Linked DNA regions of Homo sapiens. The protein of the gene in region 1 purifies or fractionates together with the protein of each later gene. This does not show direct contact. Each region holds a gene or a part of one and is shown on either strand. Other genes may lie near its edges. The genes, in order: PLA2G12A and WDTC1.

Evidence for each region.
Region 2: the proteins of PLA2G12A (region 1) and WDTC1 purify together in Homo sapiens (affinity purification with mass spectrometry; one large-scale study listed by BioGRID and IntAct). This does not show direct contact.

Annotation. Positions count from the first base shown.
Region 1 is NC_000004.12:109,727,134-109,731,392, reverse strand, and holds the start of PLA2G12A (group XIIA secretory phospholipase A2 precursor), read left to right. Parts: upstream 1-1,322; 5' UTR 1,323-1,583; coding exon 1,584-1,791; intron 1,792-4,259. Other genes in the region: CFI (complement factor I isoform 4 preproprotein), read left to right, coding at 51-160. UniProt on the Homo sapiens protein: PA2 catalyzes the calcium-dependent hydrolysis of the 2-acyl groups in 3-sn-phosphoglycerides. Does not exhibit detectable activity toward sn-2-arachidonoyl- or linoleoyl-phosphatidylcholine or -phosphatidylethanolamine.
Region 2 is NC_000001.11:27,297,069-27,300,876, forward strand, and holds part of WDTC1 (WD and tetratricopeptide repeats protein 1), read left to right. Parts: coding exon 1-88; intron 89-869; coding exon 870-1,043; intron 1,044-3,808. UniProt on the Homo sapiens protein: May function as a substrate receptor for CUL4-DDB1 E3 ubiquitin-protein ligase complex.

The DNA.
Region 1 (4,259 bases):
AGAAAGGACACACCTATGCCCAATACTTACTCACTTTCTTTTTTTTTTAGAGTCTCGCTCTGTGCCCCAAGCTGGAGTGCAGTGGTGCAATCTCAGCTCACTGCAACATCCATCCACCTCCTGGGTTCAAGTGATTCTCCTGCCTCCGCCTCCCGAGTAGCTGGGATTACAGGTGCCCGCCACCACGCCCAGCTAATTTTCTGTATTTTTGGTAGAGATGGGGTTTCACCATGTCAGCCAGGCTGGTCTCGAACTTCTGACCTCAGGAGTTCCAGGCCTCCCAAGGTGCTGGGATTACAGGCGTAAACCACCGCGCTTGGTCTGCCCAATACTTTCAACATTGCTCTGGATCTTACTGTAAAATTCTTGGAAACTGCTGTGATACTAAGATAACCAGATATTTACAACTGATACAAAGTACTACTGCAATAGTTATTTATGGATCCCGCACAATGCTGGGGGCAGGGTGGTAGGTACAGAGAAACAAACGTCACTGTAACTATCAAGTTACAAAATCCCTTGAGTAGAAAAACAATGACTTCCTTAAGATTTATTTTACTTTTTACTGTATTTAAGTTTACACTACTGTTTCTTCCTTACCAGGGGAGAATTTTATGATTTTTATGTTGGCCCATTTTCTTTTTCCGGAAAGTCTAAACTAGCATTTAGCTCGTCCTGATTAGAGTCAGGCACCGCCAAGGCATGGGTTGGCATCTTCCAGATCCCGCTCCCCCAACCGCGGCCACAGCAGATCTGGAGGACCGGGAGAGGACGCAAGGAGGAAAAGCCCTGCTCTGCGAGCTGACAGCCGGACTCTGCCCACATTGCCAATGGAACCACGTCTTCAAGCCGGAAACTCAGCTGGACCTCTCGCAGCGCTCTCTGCGAGGGGGCACAGGGGTTATTTTCTCCGATGTTGTCCACACCCAGAAAAGCTTGTCTCTCGGGGCTACTGTGCTGAGCCCCGACTGGTCAGGTTAGGCCACCGGGGTTAGCTCTGCAACTCTTGCTTCACGGTTAACAGCCCGGAGAGCTTTCTTAAAAAATACCGACGCCCACTGCCACCTGGGACAACGTAATCAGGCTCCCTAGAAAAGGGGCTCAGGCCTGGGTACTTTTTAAGGTTCTCTTGTGAACCAGGACCAAGGGTCTTGGGAGGGTGCCGCGGAGACCACGTGGGCATGGAGGCCCCGCCCCCGTTTCCCGCCCCGCGCGCCCCTCCCCCGGTTCCCCGCCCCCCCCAACCCCGCCCCCGCCCCGCCCCACCCCTGCGCGTCCCGCCCCTCCCGTGCGCCGCTGACGCGCCGTGCTCCGGCGCAGGCGCACAGGGGACGGTTGCTGGCCCAGGTGAGCGGGCGCGCTGGTCCAGGTGAGCGGGCGCGTCCCCGCGACGGCGCTGCCTGCCCGAGGCGGTTCACGTAAAGACAGCGAGATCCTGAGGGCCAGCCGGGAAGGAGGCGTGGATATGGAGCTGGCTGCTGCCAAGTCCGGGGCCCGCGCCGCTGCCTAGCGCGTCCTGGGGACTCTGTGGGGACGCGCCCCGCGCCGCGGCTCGGGGACCCGTAGAGCCCGGCGCTGCGCGCATGGCCCTGCTCTCGCGCCCCGCGCTCACCCTCCTGCTCCTCCTCATGGCCGCTGTTGTCAGGTGCCAGGAGCAGGCCCAGACCACCGACTGGAGAGCCACCCTGAAGACCATCCGGAACGGCGTTCATAAGATAGACACGTACCTGAACGCCGCCTTGGACCTCCTGGGAGGCGAGGACGGTCTCTGCCAGTATAAATGCAGTGACGGTGAGGGGGCACCCGGGCCCAGCGAGGGCTCGTGCTTTCGGGGGATTGGGGTGACGGAGATCCTGGAGGTGTGAGTGACAGATGCAAGGCAGACCTTGACGGTGTCCTTCGGCTGTGGAAAAACTTAACCACTGCTAGAATCTTGCCGTTCTAGTGATTGAGCAAGCTGGGTACAAGTTCGCACCACTATTGTTAGAATGTGAGAGGTCACATTCTAACGGAGAGGTGTACCCCCCGTCCCATTTGCATTGCTTCTGAATTACCTTTTCCCCCCCTCAATTGCACCAAGTTGCCGAAGAACTTACTGACGTAGGAATCATGGGAATAGAGTGGAACAGACTGGTTTTAGCTCATTTTTGCTTCTGTAAATTGGATGAACATGCGAAGCAAACTGAGAATTTAAAAACCATGCCGTATTAACTTTCTCTATAATTGATATTAAATGGTTTTTTTTCTGCAAACCCATAGACAATAACTTGCGACCTTTGTACAGACTTTTGGTGTACTCGAGTGTTGAGAAAGGGTTCCGATAACTCTTCTTTCCTTAGATATCAGTGACCCGCCTCCTCCTCATTGTTGGTTAACGTTAATACAGTTATCTTCATTTACTCTTTTAATATTTTTTGAACTTTCTCTTTGAACCTGAGAATTTGTTTGGTGGCGGTATGAGTACTAATCAACTCAGTATTTCAGGCAGAGATAGTTCTTTTGTAGCACATTTTTGAGTGCTTAAATATTTTAATAGGTCAGAAAAATATTGGACTTTTGTTTGGAAATTGAAAATGTTAAGAGAGCAGTTGGGAGATCATGTTTCCAATAAGATTAGCCAAGGTTAGAGTCTCATTATGCTGGCAGCGGAAAATAATCGGGGATCCAGTGACTTCATTGTTGGAACCTGATTGTATAGGTGAACTTAAAAGGAACTGGTATCATGTAAACCTATGATGCCACATGCTGCCTGCAATTTTCAAGATAATTTCTAGTTTTATGTTAATAGAAGTAAAGGATGAACTGTATCTTGTATACTTTAAAGCGCTGAACAGGTGCTGAGACATGTTGCATTGCTTCTTAAATTTGTGCCTAAACGTTACCACCTAAACGTATGCTTCATGAAGATGTTTTTATTCTTGTAGAACTTGTTCGGAGGATTAAGTGCATAATTTAAGGATCAAATAGTTGCCTTTCCTAAAGCAAATGTTACAGTTTTACTTAGTCATTCCTATTCATTATACAAATATTTGAGTCCCAACTGTGCTTCAGATGTTGTTCTAATTTGAGATTCAGCAGTTAATAAAACAGACAAAAATCTCTGTCCGTGGAGCTTGAGTTCTGGTGAGGGAGAGATGGGCAGTAAACTAGTAAATAAGTAAAATTAGGGGAAGTGTGGAGTCTGATCAGGGCAGACGAGGGGCCATGTTGGAGGCAATTTACTCTTCTAAATGGGTTGTTCAGCAAAGGCCTCACTGATGAAAGAATATTTGAGAAGAAATCTGCACGTGGTAAGGGGAGGGAATGTGGTTATTTGGAGAAACAGCATTCCAGACAGAGGGAATAGCAAGTGCAATGGACCTGAGGAGAAAGGCCAGTCAAGGATGACTCTGAAGGTTTTGGCCTGAGCCAAAGGAAGGAAACGGTTGCCATTTACAGAGATAGGGAAGACTTGGAAGGAGTCGTCTTCATAAATTTATTAGTCTAGGGTTCTAGAGTTTATTTACATTTAAAACATGCCTGAAGTTGAATGAATACCAGCCTTGTTAAAATACTGTTTTAGTCTTTTTATTTTATTTTTTGTTAATATTTTTGAGGCAAGGTCTCCCTCTGTGCCCAGGCTAGAGGGCAGTGGTGTGATCATTGCTCCCTGCAGCCTCCAACTCCTGGGCTCAAGCAATTCTCCTGCCTCAGCTTCCCAAATAGCTAGGACTATAGGCCATGCCCCCACTACACCTGGCTTAATCTTTCTTTTTAATCTTTTTCATCTTCTACAGGCTTCTCAAAATTTACTATTTGGAGTTTAGAGGAAGGTCTCTGGCACAAAAAAACACAAAGGAATTTGAGAATTTAAGAAATGTTATATGCCTCAGTGAAAAAAAATTTTTTGTCTTAGTAAGTACTCTACGTTTAACGGACATGTGGTTTCAAGTCCAAGTCACCATACTGATAGATAATTGGATCTCAATGAAAAAAAAAATTAGGCAGGACGTAATGGCTCATGCCTGTAATCCCAGCACTTTGGGAGGCTGAGGCGGGCGGATCAGTTGAGCTCAGGAGTTCGAGACCAGCCTGGCCAACATGGTGAAACCCCGTCTCTACTAAAAATACAAAAATTAGCTGGGCATGGTGGTGCACACCTGTAGTCCCAGCTACTTGGGAGGCTGAGGTAGGAGAATAGCTTGAACCTGGGAGGTGGAGGTTGCAGTGAGCCGAGACCGTGCCTCCAGCCTGGGTGACAGAGCAAGACTCTGTCTCAA
Region 2 (3,808 bases), on another chromosome or scaffold:
CCACCAACGGTGTGTCCAACGGTGTGTCCAATGGCCTGCACCTTCATAGCAATGGCTTCCGGCTGCCGGAGAGTAGGGGACATGTCAGGTGAGGCCAGCTGGCTTGTCCAGCCCTCCAAGCCCCAGTTACACTATATGGACTGGAGGGAGGGACATAACCTGTAAATCTTCCTCCTGACCCACACCCACTCATGCATCCCAGAGAGTGAGGACCAAGGCAAAGAGCCTTCTTGGAGGGTGCCTAGTGTTTCCAGTGCCCCTCTGCCTGGCAGAACACTAGTCATGGTCAGACTGTAGCTCTAGCCTGTTGGTACCAGTAACTGGGGTCAGGACTCAGGAGCTAGCTGCCTCTTAGCACTGAGCTGTCTCCAAAAAGGGGCTGCATACAAATGGGCCTCCGCATTATATTATTCCCCATCCTATAGCATATCCTTGCCTCTTTTCTCTGCCAGCCTCTGTGCTGGGCTTTGGATACAGAGGCGCTCAAATTCCCTAGCCTTGAGAGAAATAGAGTTCTCTAGACAGCGATCCACAGGAGGGACTCGGGTGGTCATAAGGTTCAGCTCAGCATGGAGGCAGGTGGTATCAGCTACTACCATGCCCAGGAGTTGAAGTACAGCTTCATTTCTGCCCTTCTTTTCACTGGCTGAGAGTATTTGGAATGGTATTTGGAATGAAATTCCAAATGGTATTCCCTATCACAGTAATAGGTAATATCCCAGACCAGGGTAGTGGTCCCCTCTTCCAGATAGCAGTCAGATCCCAGGGGCCAAGAAAATCTGGGTGGCCCTCAGGCCATGTTACAGACTCCCTGAGGGGCTGCTCTGACCTTCTTTGACTGTTCTGACTTGGCTCTATTTCCCCTGCAGCCCCCAAGTAGAGCTACCACCATACCTGGAGCGTGTGAAACAGCAAGCCAATGAGGCTTTTGCCTGCCAGCAGTGGACCCAAGCCATTCAGCTTTACAGCAAGGCTGTGCAGAGGGCCCCTCACAATGCCATGCTTTATGGAAACCGAGCAGCAGCCTACATGAAGCGCAAGTGGTGAGTGGCCACTGCAGAGGGGATCTGGGTCAGGATGAGGGAGAAAGCAGCTGGACCAAAAGGCAGGGGCCTGATGGAGCCAAGTTGCCAAGGCATCCAGGGAAAGTGGCAAGAACATATTGCTGCCTCTTAGGGCTTCTTGGCCTCTCCTCCCCACCTCCAGGCTAATGGTGGGCAGGCACCTGACCCATTAATCAGGAAGTCTCAAGCACTAAGGAAGCTCACAGTTACGTGGAACATGTTCAAAACTAGTTTCTACATGGCATATTATTATAAAGTGCTGTGGCCCCTGGGGAAGTATGAGTTGAGGACTGTTAGTCCCAACTGTTGGAGAATTGGACTTTGAAGAGCAGTGGAATCTTGCTAAGTGGAAATGAGGGGTTTGGTGAATTCAGTTGGTATGTGTCTAAAATATTCTGCAGTCCCTTGCCCCTCTAAGGCTTGCTTTCTGTGTTCTTAGACCCTTTGGACTGAGTACAAACCATATCCCAGAGATCCAAAGCTGGCTATGGGTCACGCTAGGGTATGGTGGCTGGTAATAAAGAAGTAGACCATATCTGAAAGAACTCCTCATCTTTGGAGACCATCAGGGCCCCCAGCCCTACTGCCTGCAGCACCAGCAGGCAAGCAGACATGCAGACCCCGCCCCCCCATCCCCCAGCCAGGGCCAGGACTAGAGATGGATAGAGCTGGGCCCACAGCCATTTCTGCTCCGTCTGGCATCCGTCGGCTCTGCCCAGACAGACAGGCCAGCTGGTGTGCCATCGTCTGGCTGCAACTCGGCAGGCCAGAGAGGGAAACTTAAGAAACCCACCCAAGTCAGCAGGATGGTAATGCTAGGTGGGGGTGGGGAAGATGCTGTCCCCCGGCCTTAGCTAAGGCATCAGGAGTTGGCCAAGGGCTCAGGTGGTAGCCAAACCCAGGAGATGACTGTTTTGGATGAATCGTGAGTTGATTCACCTCTCTGTCCAACAAACAGTTGGGTAGAACTCAGTGGTCCTCATCCAGGCTGTAGGCTAAGAGCTCAGCTTCACTCCTGCATTCTTGCTAAGAGAGGTTGGTGATTTCCTAATCCATATGTGCCCTCAGCATGTTCTCTGAGCTCCTACTATGTGCTAGGTACTAGGAACACAAAGTTCTATCACTCTGAGTTCCTGTGCTCCAGAGGAGCCTCTCCAGACAGTGGGTAAAGTGGTGGACATAGTTCAGCATTAAAGAGATAGGAAGCAGTGAGTCTTGTGAATGGTCAGGTAAAGGGCTGTGGGCATCAAGAAAAGTTGGGTCGCTTTAGCTGGGGAGCAGGGAAGCATCAGAAAGACATGGCGTCTGAATGGGCTTTAAGTGTAGGCAGGCTTAGACAGGAGATGAAGGAGAGGAGGGGCCTGTGGGGGAAGGACATTCCAGGGAGATGAAATGGTGTGAACAAAGGCATGGGGGTGGGGGACTGACTGAAGAGCTTGTTTGCAGAACAGCAAATCCATTTGGCTGGAGCAGAGGGTTCGGAAAGGGACTGGCAGGAGATGAGTCTGTGAGGTAGCCTGGGGCCGGCCTAGGGAGAGCTTGGAATGCAGAGCGGTGACGTTGGCCTCGATTCAGTGCATGATGGGCAGCTACTGGAGAGTTCTGAGCAGGAGAGGGATGTGCCGAGGGCTGTCCTTTCAGGGAGATTGATCTGGCAGTGAGTCTAGGAAGGGTGAGCCCTGGGGCCAGCCTGCTCTCTACCCCCATCCCCACATGCCTGCCAGTGACCCCTAGAATGTCACATTCTGTCCTGGGCCAGTCTCCCCAGGGCTGCCATCTGCTCCTGGATGCAGTGGGAGCTGTCACCCTCTGGCTCCTGGCTGGTCTCTGGTCTGGCTCTCCCCAGGAGCTCAGAGGGGCACCTTGCAGGCAGTAATTGGGTTTCCAAACAGTGCCTGCTCCTTCGTCAGAGCCACTCATCCTGACGCAGGCCACGCCATTGAAGCAGCTCTGTTTCCTGCCTGCCCCCACATGGGCTGAGCTGCTGGTTCCTGGTCTGAGCGTGGCTGTTCCGAGGACTGGGTGCTCCCTCTGAGTGCTGCAGAAGGAGGCTCAGGAAGAACCTTCCCATGTCAGGCCTGCCTTAGCCATGCCGGATTGTTGTGAGCTGTGCCCTTGGAGAAGGGGCCATTAACTCTAAGGGGTGCCTCTTACTGCTGCTTGGCACAGTTGGGTCCTAGGCCTACTCCAGCCCAGCTGAAAAAAAAAAATGGCTTCTGAAGAAGCAGTTCCTGTGGCCTGTCTGGCTCTCCAGACAAGAGGCAAGGACAGGTCTGTGGGTGCTGGGGGAGTATGCTTCCTATATTCTGGCACAGGGTGGGAAAAGGAGGGGCTTCTCTGACCTCCTTTCACTTCCTCTTTCCCCGCTTCCCCATCAAAAGCACTCCCACTTCCCTTCATCCATGCTTCAGGAGGTTGGAGAAGTGAGTGGGGACGATTTGGAGCTCCTGGTGTGCACAACCCCCCTTACCATCAGCTTCCAGAGAGCTGACTCTGCCAGACTGTCAGGCCCCATCCTCCAGCCCCAGGAGGTAGAGGCCACAGCTGCTGTGGATCAGTCAGCCAGGACAGGGGGGGGTCTGGCTGAGGGCTTGCTGCCTGCTGGTCAGACCCTGCGTCCCCAGCCTGACACTTCTGGCTTCCCCAGACCACAGAACTGTCCTTGAGGGCCCCCTGCCTTGGATGTGGCTTTGAAGGCCAGCCGGGGGTGATTTGAGAAGGTGGATGGGGGAAGAGAGAAGGAG